Homo sapiens: one gene and its partners. The protein of the gene in region 1 interacts with the protein of each later gene in a biochemical or structural test. Each region holds a gene or a part of one and is shown on either strand. Other genes may lie near its edges.

Region 1 (7,022 bases):
ATACATTATCCTTTTGGAACCTGTTGGGCTTATAAAAACAAAACCAGATCATTCCTTTTCACAGCTGCATATACTGTATCGTATAAACACACCACACTTTATTTATCCATTCCCTTATATGCATAGGCATTTGCTTCCAGGTTTCAGCCATAACAAACAGTAGGCAATGAACATCTCTGTACATGTTCCCTTACACACGTGTGCAATAATTTCTCCATGGTATAGGCTCGGGGTTGGCAGACTACAGCCTGCAAGCCAAATCCTGCCTACCGCCTGTTTGGGTAATTAAATTTTATTGGCATGCAGCCAGGTCCATTCATTTCTGTACTTCTAGCACTGCTTTCTCACTACTATGGCAGACACGAGAAGTTGCGACAAAGACCATACGGCCCACAAAAGTCTAAAATATCTACGACCTCCCTTTACAGAAAAAGTTCACCAATTACTATATAGACCTACAAGAGAAATTGCTAAGTCAAAGATAGGCGTTTTCAAGTTTACTAATTACTTAGCAAATTGATTTCAAAGTGCCAGTAAACATTCAATGGAAGAAGCCAGGGTCTCTCTCCCCCAGGGAAAATAACGTATTCCTTCATACCGCTTTCTCCTCTTTTAAGCTATTCTTGGGAGCTCAGCCATCTGTGACCCACAGCAAGATGTGGATTCTTCAATCCCTGTTTTAAGGGAAGAACTTCTCAACCAAAACATAGGATCTTATTCTGACAAATCTCTCTTAGCACTTACAAAACAAAAACATAAGGAGGCTGCCTTTTCCAAAACCCCCTCCAGGTTATGACCTAGAAACAGCAGCGCCCTCTAGGCCCTCAAATCCAAAGTCACCTGCACCCTCCTTTCCACTGGCCCCCAGGTACGGGCACAGACCCTTCTTTGTGTTCATGGCTAGGAACATCTTCCAATGGGGATTTTAAAAAGAACTTTAAACATGCACACAGGGTGCTCTGGGAGCAGGATCTGGAAGCCCAGCCATTTCTAAAATGATTCAATCAAACTGCAGAGTATTTGGGCGAATGCAGTTTTTCCTCCTACTCACCATCCTGTGTGCAGGCTCCAAGAAGATTTATGATATTCTTGTGTTTCCCAATCATCTTCATCATCTCCATCTCTGACACCAGATCAGAAAGGTCTTTCTCTGTGGCATCATCTATGAACAGTAGGCATATTCACAAATCAGTTCATTTCCTCTAACTCATGGGCAGCTACTGTTAGTTGCCAAAGACTTAGTTGAAACAGCATGAAATTGAATTTCAGAATCAGAAAAGATTTTCCAAATCATCTCCCTCATTTTATCGAGGAAGGGACAAAGGCCTACACAGGGAACTGCCTCACTCTGTGTCAAAGAGCTCACTGGGGGGCCAATGGGGCCAAGAGTCAGGACGAGAGCAGGGGCTTCTGACACTAATGCCAATTCTTTCCTAGACCATGAGATAATCTCATCCTCTGCCATATCTAAGGCGTCTCAGAAAACCACACCAAACTTCATGGTGCCTGAAACCAGCGAGGAGACCGAGGGTAGGGCCATTTCAAATCACTACAGACTTGCTCCCGACCAAGCATTCTTAACCCAGCCCCTCGAGGCCCTTAGAGCGTTCCGAGGTGGGTTCAGACGGTTCCCCATAAACAGGGCCATAAACGTGTGTGCATGTGCATTCTGAGCAGGTAAAGGGCTGCGACTTCTAGTGGCTTCTCAGAGGGCACTGCAGTTCCCATCCTAAGAAAAGTTACATAAACTTCCGCTCTGTAATTTCAAGCAAGAATGGCACAGGTTCCACATACGCGGGCTCGCAGTTAGCTTCTCTTAGATTCTCCTAAGTGGCAAGACTTTCCCATGTGCCCTCCACCTCAAGCTAATTCAGTATGGAAAAATCTGGGTTTCCTTTAAAAAAAAAATGAAATATGGGCATGGATAAGAACCATGTTGCAAACAGTTTTTTAGCTTCACAAAAGGAAGATCAATACAAGTGACTGTGTGTGCAAAATTTACACTGATGTATGTGAAGGAGGGAGCCACGGGCCATGAGGAGGGAGGGAGACACAGCCGTGGGCTGTAAGAAAGGACACGCCACAATGGCTTGGGGACTAATATCCTTCTGTGTCCTTACAGGGAAGGCTGCCAGCCTGGGCATCACAAGAGAAAGAGAACTCCCAGACCTCCCTTTTTGCAATATCCCATGTAACTCTGAGCTCCATTAGCAAAACCAGAAGTTCCGCCAAAAGAGATGAGAAGCCTGGGTCCTCCCCACACCTGGCCCTGGTACGCAGCCAGGGGCTGCCTCAGTCAGTGGTGCCATGACACCTGGGGCAAGACAGCACAGTGTTCCTCCCCGGCATCAGGCTCCAAGGTGGGGAACATCTCAAAGCACTCTAGTTTTCCTTGGGAGTCACTCAGATAAACAGCCTTTTAAAAAACCCAAAAAACAAAATGCACATCTTGTTGACAAAGTCCAGCCTGCTACTTCCCCTTGGGAGGGATGTGATGACTATCCCATGAGAACCCACAAAAGAAAGACAAAGCCTAACTCCAGAGCGCCTGCGACATGCCCAGCACCATATCCCAAGGATGGGCCTCTCTGCCTGGAAACGTGGGAAACACTCGGCATGGGATCTTCTTTCCGAGATCCCTACAAGAGGATTTATAATGTGACAGTTCCCTATAACTCTTCTCATAAAAGAATACTGCAGGACGAATAAGTTAATGGTTAAAAGTTCTTTAAGTTCTTTGGACATGGGCATGAAGCAGGGTTGGAAGGTTAACGTAGAAGTGTTCACAGTCCCACAAACACAACACGACATTTACATCTCAGGGTAATTGTTTATGTGTCCCAGGAGGCTCTGCACCAGCCCTGATCCTGTTCACTCCTTCTCAGCTTCTAAGTGACTCTCCCAGACCAGTGTCATTTCTGCTTTGTTCCTCACGCAAAAGAGAAGGCTTTCTGCTCCCTTACGTCTCTTCGTTCCCTCCAAAAACACAAATTTTCTTGTACTTGTAAAGTTAAGGTTTAAGTCCCAAATCTAACACACCAACTCCTAGCTAATAAATTCAATTATATGTGAGTTGATAATTTCTAAGCACATAAAAATACAGAGAGAATGAAGAATTGTGGTCACGAAGAAGGAGTCAAAGAATAACTCTATGTAGGAGGCTACCGCTTTCTAACAAAACTGGCTTTTCTTTATAAGTACACACAGCTCAAGATAAATAGTCTGTCCGAGATGCTGATTTATACCGAAAACTTCTCAACCCCTAGGTCAACTATGTGCTCTCTGACCCCGTGCCATGATAGAGTTCACATGCCACAAAAGGAACTTTCTTGATAAGACTCTCCACCCAGCCCCTCCCCGAGCCTCCCGCCTCCCCGCTCACCTTTCAACATCTTCACGGCCACGGTGACCGCCTCCTTGGGCTTGTCTTTGTCAATTCCCACTGCTTCCGCCATGACCACTTGCCCAAAGCAACCTTCTCCCAGGGGCTTGCCCAGTGTCAGCCTAAATGTGTAAATAGGGGATTAGCACATAGCATCTGGTGATGGGGTGTAGTGAGGGAAATTCCAGAACTAAATATAAAAATCTTTCAGCGGCTTACTAAAGCATGGAGTGCTTATCATATGGAACTAATGAGACTTAGGGTACACACGCGCCTGAGTATTTTCCTAGTGACGTTTTAGAGAATGTCAATTACTGGTGGAACGGCTATTAAATTTCACATTGGTATTCTCGGTTTATTTTCTTTAGGGAAGGTATCCTTGCTAGTGCGGTGGTCAGCTTTCCTAAGTGCCAGAGAAGAGCTTTTGATCTTGAGCCAATTAAATATTTGTAATTTAGAATGGCTCAAAGAAAAAACGTTAAGACTGTTCTTATTTTTTTGTCCCTGTAAAATGGTGGCTTTAAAATTATTATTCAAATACCAATGGATTTTATGGTCACATTCCTTGCCAAGTTACAGGATATGCCTCTTAAAAGCATTTCAAGGAATCTCTAATTTTTTACTAAAAAGAAAATTCTAAAAAATTGGGGACTTTTTTTTTGACATAAGTTTAAAAGTCCTTATGACTACATAAAATTAACAATGAAGAAAATCCAAAGTGAACACCACAAATTAAATTTCTAAGATTACAAGGTCTATGCACATCGGACGAATAGCCATATATTGTCCTTGTGCATTCCAGAAACCAACAAAACGCAAAAGTCTTTGGAATACTTATGAATACGGCTCTTTCTAACTTAAGCATAACACAGCAAAGCATGGAGCTGCCATTAGTAAACAGTATTTAAGGTAAGTACACAATAGTTTGCAAAAGTGCAGCATAAAGACTAAGGGCAGCATGTGCTATGCTGAGGTCATTTTGTTTCTACCCAGAACGAAAATTAAATTTAACATCTTGGCAGAAAATAAATATTTGCATTGGAAAAATGGCTAATTTATGTCCCACCGCCTTGCTACTACAAGCATAACAATCCTTTCTTTGTATAACTTCTGCCTCCGATCTAATAAACTGCTTCTAAATAGCCTTCATTCATTGGAAATCTGTTCCACCTACGTTTGCGCTAAACACTGTTTTGAAATGTTTAGCACTCAGATTTTCCACACTCAGGGTACCCCGGGTGGGAGGTAACAGTTGGGCACATACAGACTTCCACTGTTGACTGTGGTGTCACAGGTGGCAAAAACTATGGACTAAACCCGAAAGCTGCAATTTCTTAAAATATGATCACAACTCCCCAGTTCAGTTATATATATAGGAATGTGCACATGAACCTATCTGTGTATATAATCACACACAAACTAGGGCTGGCGGAGTTCACAAGAAACATCCATTTCTCCACATCCTACAGGTAAAGAAACCATTCTTTGTGTTTTCTCTGGTGCCCCACCAGTAAATGTCCAATTAACATGCCTTGAGTGAATGAATAAGTGAATGAGTGAGTGGTCTTTTCACTACAGTATACAAATCAACTGGAAATTACTTCCATTAACACTCTAACCAAATAATATCCATACAATTATTCAGTCCTAGCTAACGGTACACATCTCTAAATTGGCACTTGGGAAACAAAACTGATGTGACATCACGTGAATCAAAATCAGAAGTGCCAGCCACATAAGCTACCTCTCCCTTCCAAATAGAGCTCATCAGATCAGTCTCTGGAAGAGCTTATCTTTGCATTTCCAAATGTGTATAGGTACACATGAGAAGTGTATATAATCTGAGGAGCTACTGAAAATGTCAAGGCAAACAGGGTAGCTGCTTATAAGCAAGTCAAGAGCTTATTCCAGTGTATGTGATGCAGAAGTAGTCAGCATTTCCACCTTCCCGTACTCTCAAGCTGTGACGACAAAAAGTACCCCAGAAGTGAGTGGACAGCCCTACAATGACCACTGCACTTCCTTTCATAAGGAGGATCTAGGGGTCGGTCCCTGCCTAGAGGACGAGGGCTAGGAGCTCAAATTCTGCCCACTGACTCCATGCCCCACACGATGATCCTGCTGAGGTTTGCAGTTCAGAGCTCCCAGGTTACCACCACGTGAAGGGAAATGAAAGGAAAACTCGCACAAGCCAAGAACTCTGCTCAGTCCTGGGAGGTCTGAACCACCACCCTCATTTTATGAGAATGAATTTCAGAGAATCAGGTGCCTCACCCGAGGTTGCCCAGCCACTGTCTGGCAAAGCCAGGATTCAAATGCAGCCCAACGGAGCTCCAGTACGTGGAGTTCAAGCGAGACCAAGAGATACGTAGCCCCAACACCACCCAGGTGGCCATATTTTGACTAAACATCTGATTGGCACACCTCTGTATCATCCAACAAGGAAAATATTATGGATCACAGAAATTAGATGTCAGGTACCATATTTGAAGCTTTTCAGCCCAATATGACATTAATAACCAATGAGAACAGCAACACTGGGTAGCGGTCCTTAAGGCCATTTATATTCTGCATCTAATTTCTCCACAGAAGTGAACAGAGAACAGTCTTGTTCTAGTAACCAAAAGCTAGAATGTCAGATCTGTTTTATAAATTGGATAATTCTACTTTTATTCCATTTGACGGAGTCTGAATTGCCCAGACACTTAAAAAATGATAACCAGATGCCATCTTCTTTGGGGACCAGCCAGGGGCAAGTAGCTCTGCTTTCAAGGAGTTATTTTTTTTTTTAAATCCATTTTTTTCTTTTCCAGGAGTTGGTTATTTAGAAATACAATCTTACTCCTGCTGACATCATCACACCAAGACCTTTGTGGCTAAGGGTCATAAAAAGAAAATGTTAATCCAATATCCCCATTTATAGCTGAGTCTCCATCCTGGGACATGGCCAAGAGAAGTACTCACTTATCTCTTGGAAACTCCCATTTTGGGTCCTCTGGAAGTTCATACTCGGAGACCCCTGCCAGCATGGGGGTGTCTGCCGTTGAAGAGAGGCGTGTTGTTATCCTCACCAGCGGGGTGTTGGAGTTCATGGAGGAGCTGGACTCAGCCGAAACCTGGATACAAAATGCAAAGACACAGATGTAATCCTGGCTCCATCTGAGAAGGCTGGAAGTCAGCCAGAGCCCAGCCAGAGTATCGAATCTTAGAAAGGAATGGGTTGGGGGCTGGCAGAAGTCAGAAACCAAATTAGAAAACCACTGGAATCTAACTCCTCTGCCCTCCAGTCCATGCAGTACCAGATTTCATCCAAATTTTATGTTCCTATGTTCAGGTTTTTCTATGAAATTTTTCTATACCATCTGATCACAATGTAAATTTTCTTTCTGTCCTAATTCCTCCAGAGAGTCACTTGAGGACATGCAGACAGTCCTCTCTGGCTTCATTAGTGCCTTTATGGTTGTACCTGCACCTGTACTGGAGCCCTGGATAATGGATCCCCTCTCAGACCACCCGGATCATGGATCAATGCTGTGCTTATGAAATTCTACGAAAACTTTTAGGAAATTGGCTCTACCATATTTCCTCTGTCTTTGGAAATGTAAAGTGGAATATCTCAAGGAAAGAGTTCTAGGACTTG
Region 2 (7,372 bases), on another chromosome or scaffold:
TGCTTCTGTCTTAGTTGGCTTGGGCTGCTATAACAAGACAACCATGGACAGAATGGTTTAAACAACAAACATATTTCTCATGGTTCTGGAGGTTGGGAAGTCTGCGATCAGGGTGCCAGCATGGAGGGACTCCTTCCTTGTTTCCTCATTTGAGGGATTGGGGTTGTGAGAGGAAGAAAGCTCTCTCCTCTTTTTATAAGGGGGAGGCAGAGGGGCATGCACTAATCCCACCTCATGACCTGATTAACTTCCAAAGCCCCATATCCAAATACTATCACATAAAAGAACAGAGTTTTAACTTGAATTTTGGGTACCCAAACATTCAGTCCATAGCAGTCTCTACTAAAAAGTGTATGCAATTAGAGGCCACTGTGGGGCTCCCAGGACCTGATTAACAAAAGATAGTACTATCTGGGTATAGCCTGAGAGTATGAAAGGGTGATAGGAATATAGAGTTGGGTAGGGGTGGGGTGCAGAGGCTTTTGGGACCATGTTTGAAACAGCTATCCCAGGAAAGCATTCTAAAAATCCTTGGGTTTTCTTTGGATCAAACAAAGAAAATTTGGCCTTGCCTTCAAACTGTACAGTCATCTTAAAGCTCAGAACAGGCAAATTTCTCATGGCACCTGCACCTCCAGGAGTGGAGATTTTGGGGTAACTGAGGCTCTTGGAACAGAAGTCTGTGTAAGATCAGCCTGGCACAGTGGCAGCCTGGTTCCTGGGTCAGACAGCCTCCCAGGACAGTGGCTTGCATTGCCAGGGTTGTTCATTCTATTCCATCATCTATCTCTTGTCCGTCCTTCCAACCCAGCATGAGACATTGTAGGATGAACAGTCTTGCCTTCAGGACCCTTGCCTCAGTGAGGCCTGGCCTCAGTTTAAACCCAGGGGAATGTTGTAAATATTGAGACGGTCTCTAGAGTGAAGGAAATATTGGGCTCTGACTTGACTTATACACCCTGACTTCTCTTTTCTTAGGCTTCTGGGTTCCAACCAGAGGTTACCGGTAACTTTATCTTCTTTTGCATTGATTTCTGTCTCTAGTAACCAGATCACACTTGTAGTTACGAAAGGGATAGGGGAAATTCACCACCAGTTTTCCACACAGAAATAGGGGAGGCCTGGAAAGAAAGTTCAGATGCTGGGGTCCAGGAAAAGTGACCCTGAGGGGGTTGGTCTAGGAAATGTGAGGCCTAGTGGGGTGAGACACCGCTGAAAGAGAGCTCAAGAAGAGGGGGTGGGGACCTAAGCCGAAGCCCGCGCACTCACTGCCTGGCGCCTAGGTGACTGGTGGAATCTGCTAATCTGTTGGGTAGTTTTTCCGTCGTCTGTCAGGTGGCGATGAGTGGAAACTAATCTTCGGGGCCGTTTGTTTTACCTCTGCAGGAAGCAGGGCGCTTGCGCCTTCTCCCAACCTTGCTTTCCTGGCTGGGAGAACGCAGGAATTGGAGAACTGAGCTGTGGGCTCGAATCCGCGCATGACCTGGAGATCTGGACCAAGCTCCGAGGCTTAATGGGGAAAGCTGAGATGTCCCCAGCAGGGGGCTTTGGGCGATTAACTTTTCGGAAAGTCGCCAGAGAAAGTGTGGTGCAGGCTTGCGCTCTTTTGGGTGGAGTTCACAGGAGTAGGGCTCGAGGTAGCCAAAACAGTAAATTGAGATAGCTCCCCGCCCCACATTCCCCACTGCAGAATTGCTGTGGACAGAGGCTCTCGAAGATCGGCTGCTCAGAGTGGTAGGCAGGATGTAGACCAGGGCGGGCGCAGCCCTGGCGCATAGCGCGACCCTTTCGTCTCTCAGCTGAGCTGCGGAGGAAGGGGGCTTGGCAGCTCAGCTCACGGAACAAGCGCAGTGCTGTCTTTCATGTTTCACTGTTCAGTTTTTGTAGCTTTTTTTAATGGCCCCAATACATAACTCTCTTGTGAAAAAAAAAGTTTAATAGCATCCACCCTACACACTTATGATCACCAATGGAGATTTCCTTTTAAGCCCCGAGTATGTGGGCACATTCGGCTGCCCGCCCAACCCCCAATCCTCCCACCCCAGTATGGAAGACAGTCGGGCGTTGAGGACTGGTTTGCCAAATTCAATCACTGTCCACAACAGCTGGTCACTTGTCTCCTTTTAGTGAGCCCCTGACTCTTTCTAAGCCCTTGGAATCCAGAAAAGTGTATCTTGCCATCCTCCAGTTTGAGGTAGACTAAAGCCTGAGCAGGTGTCTTTGCCTTCCTGGGTCATCCCTAGGCAAGGATTTGATCCCCAGTTTGGCTCTTGCGGGAGTTGAGAGGGAAACAAGGATGGTTGTTTCAGTGCAGGCGGGGCTGCAGAAACTGAGAGAAGGGAGCAAAGACAAGAGGCTGATAACAGCTCCAGAAACTGGACTCCAGAGTCCTCTTGACCTCCTGGGTTTAGACAGGGGGCTGATAGTGCAGCTGGGGCAGGAACCACTCTCCTCCTCTTTCAGCAGACTCCTTGGGAAAAGGAAAGGGAGAAACAAGCAGCTGGATTTGCTTTGGAGAATCTTCGTCACTTGAGGAATGGGCTGTGTATTTGCGTGGCATGGGGGAACTTACAAATGGCATTCAGCAGCATCAATGTGGCTTAAACCCTGACAGCTTTGCCACAGACCTCAGGGCATTGCCTGAAGAAGGAACAGCACCCAGGTTCAGAACCATCCTACAATCATCCTCCCCAGAAGAAGGTGATTTCAGTCAAGTAGACCATTCTGAGAGATACTGTGACTGTTCTCAATGTCTACTTTTAGGGTTGCCTTGTAAGGATCTGCCTACCCACCCTAGTTAAGGGAGAAGTATATAACTTGAGCCTAGAACAGTGGACAGGGGGTGTGTTCAGCTCTGGACAGTATCTCATGTAGTGTGCCCATGTTATGCACATCTATGTGTGATGTCCTCTTTCTTTATCACAGTGGTTTTACTACACTTTCCAGGTAACCTTCTGTTTTACAAGTACTTTGATGTTACTCTGGCGGTGGAAGATTCCAAACCTGAAAAATCTGCATTGTTTTATATGCGTTTCATTATTGAGATGGAAAACCTTAAGTAGGTACTCAATAATGGGTAAGGCCGTTTCTTAGCTTCAACCTTGGTTCATCTGAATTGACCTTATCAGTCAATAGCACGGGCCGTTTCATTAAAATAACCAATGAATAATGTATCATAGCTTAGTTTAAAGTTTCAAATATGTTTTTAGACAGAAACATTCCAAGCATGCAAGTCAGGTGTATTTCCCAGATAAATAACAGTCTGGGGACGTTGCCCGTACAGGGAAATTCTCTGTTCTCAAGGAAATTTTCCCTTCTCGGGTTTCCTGAGGTTGAAATCCAGCGCGCACGTCATTAATCATTCACTGAGGTCGGTCCCTCAGTCAATGGCAGGTCTGGGTAAGCTAAAGCGAGCAGTTAGCTAACCCTTCCTGCCACGGGGATCCTGGGGCGAAAGAGGACAACTGGGCGGTCAGTTACATGTGCTGGTGTCCAGCCGCTGCCTCTCTTTCCCCGGTCGGAGCGCGGGGGTGCGTGTGCCCTCACTCTCACGAATACAGACGGAGAGCTTCCCAGAAGGAAAAACAAATTCGTCATAATGTTCAGCGCAGCCGAGAGTTTCCAACAAGAAAGCAGCTCCAGTCGTGGCATGATGACTCAGGGTGGCGTTTTAAACGCTGAATAAACCCATTCCTTAGCTCTTTAATAAATCGCTAATAACAGCAAAAACAGCCTTCTCCCCGAACCGCGCCACACCAAAGGCTTCCCAAGTTGGGCTGCGAATCCCTGTTTGGTTTTCCAACGCCGAAAGACGTAGAAGCAGTGGGATCTCCTGGTGGGACGCATTTCTCCAAGGGCTCCCAGAGAGAGGACGAGATAGCAGGGTTTACAGGGCAAAGAGAGGAGAACCTGGAAATCGTGTCCTGGGGGGCAAGAGTGCGTTGCCCAGTCACAAGTGTGCTGTAGAGGTGGGAGAGGACAAGGACCCATTTCCACATTTCAACCCTCCGTTTCTATCGCTGCCCCTGGAGGACTCAGCTGCTAACGCCGAGCTCGTTTCCACGCGGCTCTGGTCCTAGTCGGGGAATCCGGGTGGCCGCGCGACGCGAGAGAACTGCTGGGATGCGTGGCCCTGGTATGGGCGCACCCAGCGTCCGGGGCGCAGGTTCTCTCAGCCCAGCTTCTCCTCCCACTCACTCGCTCGGATCTCCTCCCTCCTTCACATCCCCCGCCCCCGGGACCGCGAGGCTCCCTCCCCGCACCGGCCAGTGAGTACACAAAGCCGCGGGTGAGGGGAAGCTTCGCAGGCGTGCACGGAGCAGTGAGATCACTGGCGTTATAAATATCCCGGTGCCAGCGCGGAGATCCGCTCGGGTGGCCTCTCTCTTCCCCTCTCCCCTTCTCTTCCCCGAGGCTATGTCCACCCGGTGCGGCGAGGCGGGCAGAGCCAGAGGCACGCAGCCGCACAGGGGCTACAGAGCCCAGAATCAGCCCTACAAGATGCACTTAGGACCCCCGCGGCTGGAAGAATGAGCTTGTCCTTCCTCCTCCTCCTCTTCTTCAGCCACCTGATCCTCAGCGCCTGGGCTCACGGGGAGAAGCGTCTCGCCCCCAAAGGGCAACCCGGACCCGCTGCCACTGATAGGAACCCTAGAGGCTCCAGCAGCAGACAGAGCAGCAGTAGCGCTATGTCTTCCTCTTCTGCCTCCTCCTCCCCCGCAGCTTCTCTGGGCAGCCAAGGAAGTGGCTTGGAGCAGAGCAGTTTCCAGTGGAGCCCCTCGGGGCGCCGGACCGGCAGCCTCTACTGCAGAGTGGGCATCGGTTTCCATCTGCAGATCTACCCGGATGGCAAAGTCAATGGATCCCACGAAGCCAATATGTTAAGTAAGTTACTCGCTCTCCTACAAAACCCGTCCTAGGCGGCCGCGGAAGATTCGGGAGGGACAGCAGGTATTCGCCGGGACACAGGCTCACCTTCCTGAGCCCAGGCCACTGGGACCAAGCTGATACTCAGAAACAGCCGGGCGGGTTGGGTGGAGATGCATCTATATGGCGTGCGCACACGCACCCCTCTCCTGGGCATGAGGAATTGCGATTTCTCAGGTGTATGTTACCTAGAGGCTGGTGCCCAGACGGGTACCTTGTTTTCAGTTTGCTCTAGCCTCAAAGACGAGTCCCCAGCCATGACAGGAGAGAACAAAAAACTCATTTCTTCTCACTCAATTTGTTTACCTTCTGCTTATGAACTAGCCTGGCATTTTTCATTAGGCATCAAAGGCAGCCCTTCTCCCTATCCATAACTGAAGTTATTTTTTGAAAAGAAGAATCAAATCCCAAATACTTCCCTCTTCCATCCGCTACCATAAACCTCAAATTAATATTGTATATGTATATGTATATATGTATATAAGTCTATGTATACAATGTATACACATAGGTAGATAGATAGATAGATAGATAGATACACAGATAGATAGACAGACAGATAGATAACTAGGGGACACCAGACAGACATTCCTGCTTGGAAGAAGATTGTGCTCTAGAAAACTGGACGCGTTTAGAGAGGGAGACATGATAAACATTGAAATTACTAACTCCAGAGTTGGATTTAACAATGTTTAGTATCTTGAGACCATGACTACACCGTATTAGGAGAGTGGCCAGCCTTTGGTCCCCAAGAACAGTTAGGGGAAAGTTCCTTATTTTAGAAGAAACGCAGAGGTTAAATTTGGTAGGGGTGCAGATTTTGTAGGACTTTTTATAAACAAAGTTTTAAATTTTCCCTCTGAGTTTTTTCTTTCAGCACGCTCTCTTTTTTCCTTTCTCATCTCCTCTTCCCTTCCACCCCATCTATGTTTCCAGACCATCGCAGCCACTCCTCTGGTTTCTCTTCACTGCCTCTAGGCAGCTGGGGGCAGGGACGGTTTGGGGCTGTGAGTAGGAGTGGGGAGATCTCTGTGGGGCTTTTGCTCAGTAGGGCCAGATCGCTCTTCCAGCGCGGGTTGGTCCACCAGGCAGAGCCCCAGCCAGGGCCTGTCAGGTACCCAGGGAGACCGGAAATGTAGCCAGGAGACAGCAGCGCTCACAGTCACCTGGTTTCAGTGTCAGCCTGGTTGCTCCTAGATGTTCCTAACTTGCTCCATCTCAGACCAAAGACTCCACGGGCCATTGGGCTCCTTCTTACACAGGCTCCAGAGGAGCGTGGACACCACCGGCGGTCTGAAGATTTGGCAGCCAGCAGTCTCCAGAGGGGGGTCGGAGGCGCGCAAGTGGGTAAGGCGGTAGGCTGGCTAGCCTCCTCCGGTGGGTTAAGGGGGCCTAATGCGGAAGACCTGATGGTTCATGCTGAGAGAAAAGCAGGTCTATGCCCGCCCCTCTGCGCCTGTCTAGTCTATCTGATCGCGCTGATTCAGCAGCCTGCGGCGCACGTGGTGAGGGCGCCTGGAGCGCCCAGCTGGAGAGAGGGCCCTCCGCACACGCACCAGCGAGTCCCAGGGCCTCCCTCACACTCCCGAGAGGAATCTATTTCCATATTTTAGAGTTTATTTCACTCATCGAATAACTGCTCATTTGGGGGATAAAGGGCAAGATCTGTTGGGGTGAAATGGAATTTTCTGAGATTTGAGGAATAATCAGTAACATCTATTTATTTCCATTCGTCCTTCTCATTTTGTCTCAACGGTCTTTTGACTCCATCAGCCATCACAGCTTATTCCCACTTCCGGCAACCTTTCCTTCTCTCTTACAAGAAAACTTTCTTTCTTCTGTTCTTCTTGTAACGACCCGTGGAGTCATTGGTCTGAGATGGAGCAAGTTAGGAACATCTAGGAGCAACCAGGCTGACACTGAAAGACAGGTGACTGTGCGCGCTGCTGTCTCCTGGCTATGTTTCCACTCTCCCTGGGTACATGACAGAGCACCAACAGAGGATAACTTCCGTGAGCTCAAGGGCGGACCCCAAACTAGCAGGCAGCAAGCAGCAGGTTGGAGCCCAGGGAGCTCAGAGAATGCTTCTGGGGAGGGTTTAGGTGTGCTAGAGATCTCAGAAAGCAAGGCTCATTCCCAGGATATTCACCATCTTCTCTACGAAGACACTATATGAGACGAAGGTAGTTTTACAGCTTAGGCCTTGCTAGAGGGGGTGTTGTAGAAAAGCAAAGGGGGGAAAATAAGAGCAGATCAAAAAGAGTGCACCCAGATAAACAAGACATTGACCACTACCCAGTATGTAACATGTACATTTTCTTTTAAAATCCATGTTGAAAGATATCTACAAGAGAACAGGGATGTTTCCTAAAACAGTGCCGACAAAAAGCTTAATTTAAACTTTTTCCTAATTTATTCTTGTTTACAATAACCTTTCAGAGTTTAG
Region 3 (6,949 bases), on another chromosome or scaffold:
AGGCTACCACATTTCCTACCTAGAAATCAGCCTGCCAAGGACACTGATGCCTCCCCTTTGCAAACAATCTGTTTTGACGGACTGTCATTCTATCTGAGCAGAATTTCCATATAAGTATCCATTTCATGCTTTGAACGATCAGACAAGCTTTACATTCTACCTATGGTGTTCAGAAATTGAGGCTAACATTGAAATATCAAAGCATTAAAAACAAAAATAAAAAGGCACAAACAACTTTAAATTAACTTAGATAACTGTACATATATATATATATACACACACACACACACACACAATATTTACAATATAAATTTTAAAAAATCTGGCTTGTTACAGGCAAATTCACTTGCCACAAGCTGTCCAGTCTAATCGACAGGATTCCGATTCCTGAACAGTGTCATTCGAATCAGAATGTCAGAGCTGAGTCTGCTGTTCTGACTTAAGGAACAACTTGACTCAGTCTCTTGATGGCTGGAGAATGCACATCCTAGCTGTCACTGGGGCTACAGGCAGGTCAGTGAGCACGCTAAAATTTTCCTTCTCAATTACACTTCAAATAGCAGGCATATTACTCGTATAAGATGCTATCTGATGATACTAACCTTTCTGCTGGTACCCTCCCACTGCTCCTAAAGCCACACCTTAATATACATTCTGGTGCTGTGTACTAATGTAGTTCCACTGTCAAGTCTTAACATTCTTCAAACCAGTGTCTGGGGTTGATAGACTATTTGTTTGACATGGCACAATGTTTTGAATTGGGTGGGAATCTTTTCCCCCAGTTAGAAAAACAGATTTAAATAACTTGTGCTACTGAAATCATTTTTACGGAAAAATGAGATGTGAATCAGTTCAAGTTCCAGTCTAATGAGTTAATGTCTCTCACTCTCTGGCTTCATGCCATGTCTCCGTACATCTTCCTGTAGTACAGCGATTCAAAGATGTCATTGTCTCCGGGACAGTTGTAATGGCAGGCACAGGTCTTGATGAACATCATGTTCTTCTTCATGACCTCGCCGTCAGGGCACTTGAACTCCACCGGCAGGGTGGTGGTTCTGTGGGGGGTGCAGCATCGGCCGTCGGTACATACTCCACAGAATTTAGCTCGGTATGTCTTCATGCTGGTGCAGCCAGAAAGCTCAAACTTGATAGGCTTGGAGATTTTGGGAGTACGGATGCACTTTTTGCCCTTCTAAGGAAGACAAGGGAAAAGAGAGAGGAAAAAAAAAAATCAGCGACTCTACAAGAGGAGTGGCTTTCTTCAACCCTCTGTGTTTTAGTCTTCTGTTGTCTGACTTCTGTTTATATTTTGAGGGGAGGAAGTTTGAGTCTCATTTGCTATGTCCAAAAATAGCCAGAGCCTCTCTTGGAATGTCTTGAATTAACTAACCCTGTGGAAGATTTCGTAGTGGAAAACTGGTGGTTGCTATTACACAAGCTCTCATTCCAGCAAAACAGCTCAATGGTTAGATAGTTTTGGAGATAACGGGCTTATACTAACAAGCGTGGCAAGAGCCCTAAGTTGGGTCCTATCCACTGTTTTTCCTGTGAAAAATAGTTAATAGGAGCAGAACATGTACCTTAATGTTCTCTTCCAGGTCAGCTTCGCAAGGCCTGACCATGCACAGGCGGCTCTGCTTCTCTAGCCTGCAGGAGGCGTTGTCATTGGTAACCCGGGTGGAGATGCCCATCCCACAGGTCTTGGAACAGGCGCTCCACTCTGTGGTCTGGACCAGGCAGTTGGCTCTAATCATAGTTGGGTCTGGGCCAAACGTGTCTTCCAGTCGGTAAGCTGCGAGAGCAGAGCACACAAACACCATGTAAAACGCCTGGATAAGGTATTTCCCCCGTTCGGTCGGCACAGTTAGGACTCCCTCCCTGGGAGAGAATCACGACCCTGACTTAGAGGAAGACTCGACTCACCCGCGAGGGCAGGCCCAACCACGGTTTGGTCCTTGGGCTCGTCACACACCCACTCCTCGCAGCATTTCCCGGGCAGCTTGACCCTCCTCGGGAAGGGGCAGTCAGGGCTGGGCAGACGAACGTCCATGCTGCACAGGGGCATGCAGCCCACCGCCCCGTCCAGGCACGTGCACTGGTACTTGCAGCTGCTCTGGAAGGACTCTCCGCTGCGGTACACCGTACCACCGAAGATGCAGGGAGCACCATCTTTGGCTGGAGAAGAGGAAGGGAAGAGAGGGGTGGGGGATGCAGAGGTCAGGCATTGGGGCACTCTCACATCCAGAGCGTCAGGGATGCGAGTTGGGATCTGGGCTGCAGGGGGCGGGCTGGCAGCAGCTGGAGAAAGAAACTCAGTCCGAGCGGTTTCTTTTTCCAGCGGGCGGGTGGGCGTGAGGGAGGAGGCGGCCGGACACCTAGCGGTGGGGGCTGCGGGTCTTACCGGTGCACACGCCGATCTTGCGGTTGGCCGGGGAGCCGAAGTGACAGAATAGGCCCTTGTGCGGGTCGCATGGGTCGCGCTCGGTGCACAGCTCGCCCAGCTGCTTGGCGCAGACGCGGCAGCAGCCGCAGCCGTCCAGCACGAGGCTCACGCCCGCCGGGCAGCGCGGCGCCGGCTCGTCCGGGCACCGGCACGGCCCGCTGCAGTTCTGGCCGACGGCCGGCTGCAGGGAGGACAGGGCGGTCAGCGGCGCTCGGTCGGCGCGCACGCCCTCCCCGGCCGGCCCCGAGTCCCTCCCTGGCAGCCGCCGGCCGCAGCGGGGGCTCCCGGCGCTTACCCGGCTGCAGAGGGCGAGGAGGACCACGAAGGCGACGCGGACGGGGCCCATACTGGCGGCGGTCATGGTTGGCACTGCGGGCGGAGCGGAGGGCGCGGTGGCGGCGAGCGGGGAGCGGCGGGGCCTGGAGCGCTGGCGGTGGTCGGAGGTGGGGACCGGGACGCGCCGGGCTGTCGTCTCGGGGCTGTCGGCCGGGGCGGCTGCCGTCGAGCTGGAGGGTGGAGTCGCACTGGCTGTCTCCTCTCAGCGGGGAAGAGTTGTTGTGTGAGTTTGGGGCGGGCGGCCCGAGGCTTTTATACGCTCCGGGCGGCCGCGGCTCGCCAATGAGCTGAATGGAGTCCTACACAAACAGGGACATTCCTCGCATTCCTCCCCACCTTCCTGCCTCATCAACTCACACCGGATTGATCCTGACCCCTTGACACTCAGCATTCCTCCGTCTGAAAAAGCTGGCACACTCCAGCTCACAGAAAAAAAAAAAAAGGAAAAAAAAAAGCGCAGTATTTCCAGCACCAAATAGAATTTTTTTTTCCCTATCCTCTTCGCACCACTCCTGATTCATATCATTTATAAACACACTGGCAATTATTTCTTATTTCTTTTTCGAATAAGTTTGCCCTGTTCTGTCCACTGACATACATCCTTTTTAGGAAGTAGGTAGCTGAAGAGGCAAACAGCAGGAATTCCTAAAAAATTCGAAAAGGTTTCTCCCCCCCAACCCTTAGCAATGATTTGCGTTTTAGAGGCTATAGGCTCTTGAAACTCTCCAAAGAGTAGAAAAGGAGTGAGTTGCTTTTAACCATTTGAAATCCTCAAGATGCCTACCTGTAAAACCCTGAATTCTATATTTGAGATTTGATCATTTGTCACTTGAGGTAACGGTTTTGGGACAAGAAAGAGAACAAAGACGCGTGTGACTCAGGATGCAGTCTCCTGGGGCAGATTTCCAAAACTCTTGCTTAGTTTTCTCTTAATATATGTAGGAGTTTTATATAGGCAAGGACAAGGGAGGAGTGGCCATCAATGTTTCCAGAAAAAGGGATCCATTGTTCTATCAGAGCAAATGATTCTGTGTTGGGTAGGTAGGGGCTCTGGGTGTCAGGGTGGGAACACTGGGATGCAAAGGGGGTTCACCTAGGAGCATTTAAACACAGCTTCACTAGGGTCTTTGAGAAATGAGTGCATTTTCTTATATTAAAACCTATAATCTTCAAATGTGGATTGGATTTGGTTTGTCTTGTTAAAATAAGAAGTCTGATTCCATTACAAGAGCAGTGTACCCTGTTGTATCTGGATATAAACTAAGATTGACAGTGAATAATATATTTTTAGTGACTCCCCACACATCTATGAATAGTGATTGTGACTTCTCATTACCCAAGGAACATGCAGCCTGAGGGAGTGAGGTCAGGACAAGGAAAGAATAGGCTTTATTCTCCCTGGGTGTGTGCAGATGTTGAATATGGCCAATAAACCTAAGCATATCTCCATTTCTTAATATAGTGCTACTTAGCTTCACTAAAGACCCAACTAATTCACTGTGCTTTCATTTGGAATCTATGTTGTTTAGTGGCTTTTTTGTTAATACCTCCAGTTCCCATTTTATATAAAGAGAGTGATTCTAGGGCCATACCATTTTTGTATTCTGTAATGCCGCATCATTTGACATTGGTGTTACCAATGAGTAGATTCCTTTAAGTTGTTGATGCTTCAGAGCATGGGTTCAAGATAAGCATATCTGTTTGTGGTGCAAAGATCGGCTTTAGAAACAATGCATTATAGATTTATCATTTGAAAACAGCCTGTTTAAACTGATCAAATTTTTAAAGTTTCAGTACAGTCTGTTGAAAAATAGCCAAGAAGAAATATAACCACTCCAACTTCAGCATAGAGCATATCATCTGTGCACGATTACCTCGTTAAGCCAGCCACATGTTATAGAGTGTAGTTGCATGTCAATAGTGTGAATGGCCAGCAAAGGGGTGGGGGTGCCCTCTGAAGCTCAGGAAGAATTTTCGTCATTGTTATTTAATGTCCTTTCCAAGCATTCCTCAAAAAGAAGAGGCCTAAGAGTTCCTATTTAAAGAAGGAACATTCCAAGTTAACTTAATAGCCACATGTGTATTAAAGGCAACTTGGCCCTCAACTTTTTCTTCCCTTGTGGATGATTTTAAAAGTCCAAAATATGTGGGAAGCCACAGTGAAACCTTTCAAGACCTAAACCCCCAATTACATCTACCTCTAATGGTTGGAAAGGTGTGGTGGCTGGGGAAGGGTAGGGATGTGCAGTGCGAGTCTCACCTAAGGTGGGATGTGGGCTTGGTGGTGAGCTCTCCTAGCTTGCAGAGTGAGGTAGGTGGGAGAAGGGTTGGGGAATTTCTGAATCCTCAGGAGAGTCTGAAAGCTACCACCATCTTCATGCCTGCAGCAGGGAGACTCATTCATGGAGGGGATAAATTGTTGTACTGGGTTATAGTTAGATGGCCTAGGTTGTATTCTTGGAACTGCCTTTCGCAGATCTCAGGGAAGTCACACGTAGGAGCCATATTCCCATTTCTGTTTAAAAAATGAAAGTAATCATAATTTTTTTAATTTAATAGGGTTCAGTGAGGGCTGAGTAGATGAAAATTCCAGGGAATTGGTGCTTTATTTTTTTCAGATTTTCTTGATTTTTTTTCAATCTCTGTGTATAATAAGTATATTACCATTCTGCTCTGTTGTTAAAAATGTCAAAAGAAAGAATTTGGTTTTACTATAAAATTCTCATAGTCCCTCGAAGTCTCAAAAAAATCTATAGTCAGTTCCAAATAGATGATTTTAATGTTGCTTAAGAGGAAATAAGCATATTGAAATATATAGAACATATGAAATCTCAGGAAAGAAAAAGTTTCTGTGCATTATCAGGTTAGATTGAGGCTTTATGATCAAAACTCTTTTTGAAGGAGTTAAAAGACTATTATTAAGAGAGTGACACAGAGACAGACAGACACATACATGCACACACACCCAGAGAGAGAGAGAATGAGAGAAGACACCCAAGACATTCACAGACTCAGAAGTATGTTTTTATTGTGATATGGACCATCAAATGCCAGGAAACTCAAAGGGAAAGGCTGATACTCCATCCATAATTCATGCCATGGGATCTGAATTCTTGCACTATTATCAATGACTCAGCAAATGTTTGTGTGTGCCTGGGCGGTAAAGTGGGAAATAGTGGCTTCTTATAACTTCATCCAACTTTGACTTACCCCAGCCCCTTTGATTGACAGCAGGTCAGAGTTGGGAGAAAAAGATCTTTGAATTTGTGTGCAAAATGGTTAAGATGCACTAATTTTGACTTGTAAGCAAGTATTTATCTAGCAAATGCTTTTTAGAGAGCATTTTTTCCTCGTGGTAAAATGAGGAATTAACTAAGCTGGCCACTGAGTCCTGTTTACCAAGCTATATAAGGTATGTGTGTGTGTCTACTAGGGCATCATTTGTACTGGTCGTTTGGTTAAGTCTTGTAAGATGTTCAGCTGTGGATGTATTACATTCCTTCCCTTAAGTTTTTTGTTGTTTTTTCCTCCCTAAAAAAAAAAGGTTTCTTGATCAGGTATCAGACACAGAGAAAACCTGGCAGGACTACAGAAAAGTGGCCAGAGTTGGAGTGTTTGTGTACTTAAAGAAGGAATCTTGCACATTTTCAACTTTTAGTTGTAGACATTTTCTTATAAGAGCAAGTAGGAGTCAGTGCCAGCCCTCAAAGCGGAAATCAAAGCTCCCAGGGAAACATGCCGGAGGAATGTGACTCAGAGCCAAGACCCATACGCAATGCATACACGGAGCTGTCAGACTTATAGGAGGAAGTCTGGCCGTATATGGGCATCTGGACAGTGAGCGATTTGTCCTTATGGTGGGTCAGGGGGAGGTTTCTGATGTTTCTAGCGTGCCTCAAATTCAATCATGTAAATTAATTCTACAAAAAAAAATGGTATCCCAGAAGCCTTTTGTAAAATAGTAATAAATATTATTCTGAAATCTTCAGGGACCCTGGTTTGGCTGACATGACCTCCTGTTTGCTTAAGATGAAGGTTAAGGAGAGGGCGTACTTGCTGGGAGTTCATGGCGGGGAAGATAAACGCGGATGTTTACTATCTAAATTACATTCATTACCTTCATGCCTTTTCCTCCTTATAATTAGTTCTCTGACTTTCTTAGGATATTTT

What was found. Proteins that work in one complex are often made in the same cells at the same time.
Region 2: the proteins of FGFR2 (region 1) and FGF5 interact in a test that uses a peptide from one of them, tested with the Homo sapiens proteins (one study listed by BioGRID).
Region 3: the proteins of FGFR2 (region 1) and CCN2 interact on a protein array, tested with the Homo sapiens proteins (one study listed by IntAct).

Annotation. Positions count from the first base shown.
Region 1 is NC_000010.11:121,497,444-121,504,465, forward strand, and holds part of FGFR2 (fibroblast growth factor receptor 2 isoform 1 precursor), read right to left. Parts: intron 6,499-7,022; coding exon 6,347-6,498; intron 3,505-6,346; coding exon 3,383-3,504; intron 1,163-3,382; coding exon 1,052-1,162; intron 1-1,051. UniProt on the Homo sapiens protein: Tyrosine-protein kinase that acts as a cell-surface receptor for fibroblast growth factors and plays an essential role in the regulation of cell proliferation, differentiation, migration and apoptosis, and in the regulation of embryonic development.
Region 2 is NC_000004.12:80,262,296-80,269,667, forward strand, and holds the start of FGF5 (fibroblast growth factor 5 isoform 1 precursor), read left to right. Parts: upstream 1-4,368; 5' UTR 4,369-4,529; coding exon 4,530-4,884; intron 4,885-5,972; exon of another isoform or gene 5,973-6,273; intron 6,274-7,372. UniProt on the Homo sapiens protein: Plays an important role in the regulation of cell proliferation and cell differentiation. Required for normal regulation of the hair growth cycle.
Region 3 is NC_000006.12:131,948,369-131,955,317, forward strand, and holds the start of CCN2 (CCN family member 2 precursor), read right to left. Parts: upstream 3,005-6,949; 5' UTR 2,805-3,004; coding exon 2,739-2,804; intron 2,625-2,738; coding exon 2,402-2,624; intron 2,176-2,401; coding exon 1,924-2,175; intron 1,793-1,923; coding exon 1,581-1,792; intron 1,193-1,580; coding exon 896-1,192; 3' UTR 1-895. UniProt on the Homo sapiens protein: Major connective tissue mitoattractant secreted by vascular endothelial cells. Promotes proliferation and differentiation of chondrocytes. Is involved in the stimulation of osteoblast differentiation and has a critical role in osteogenesis.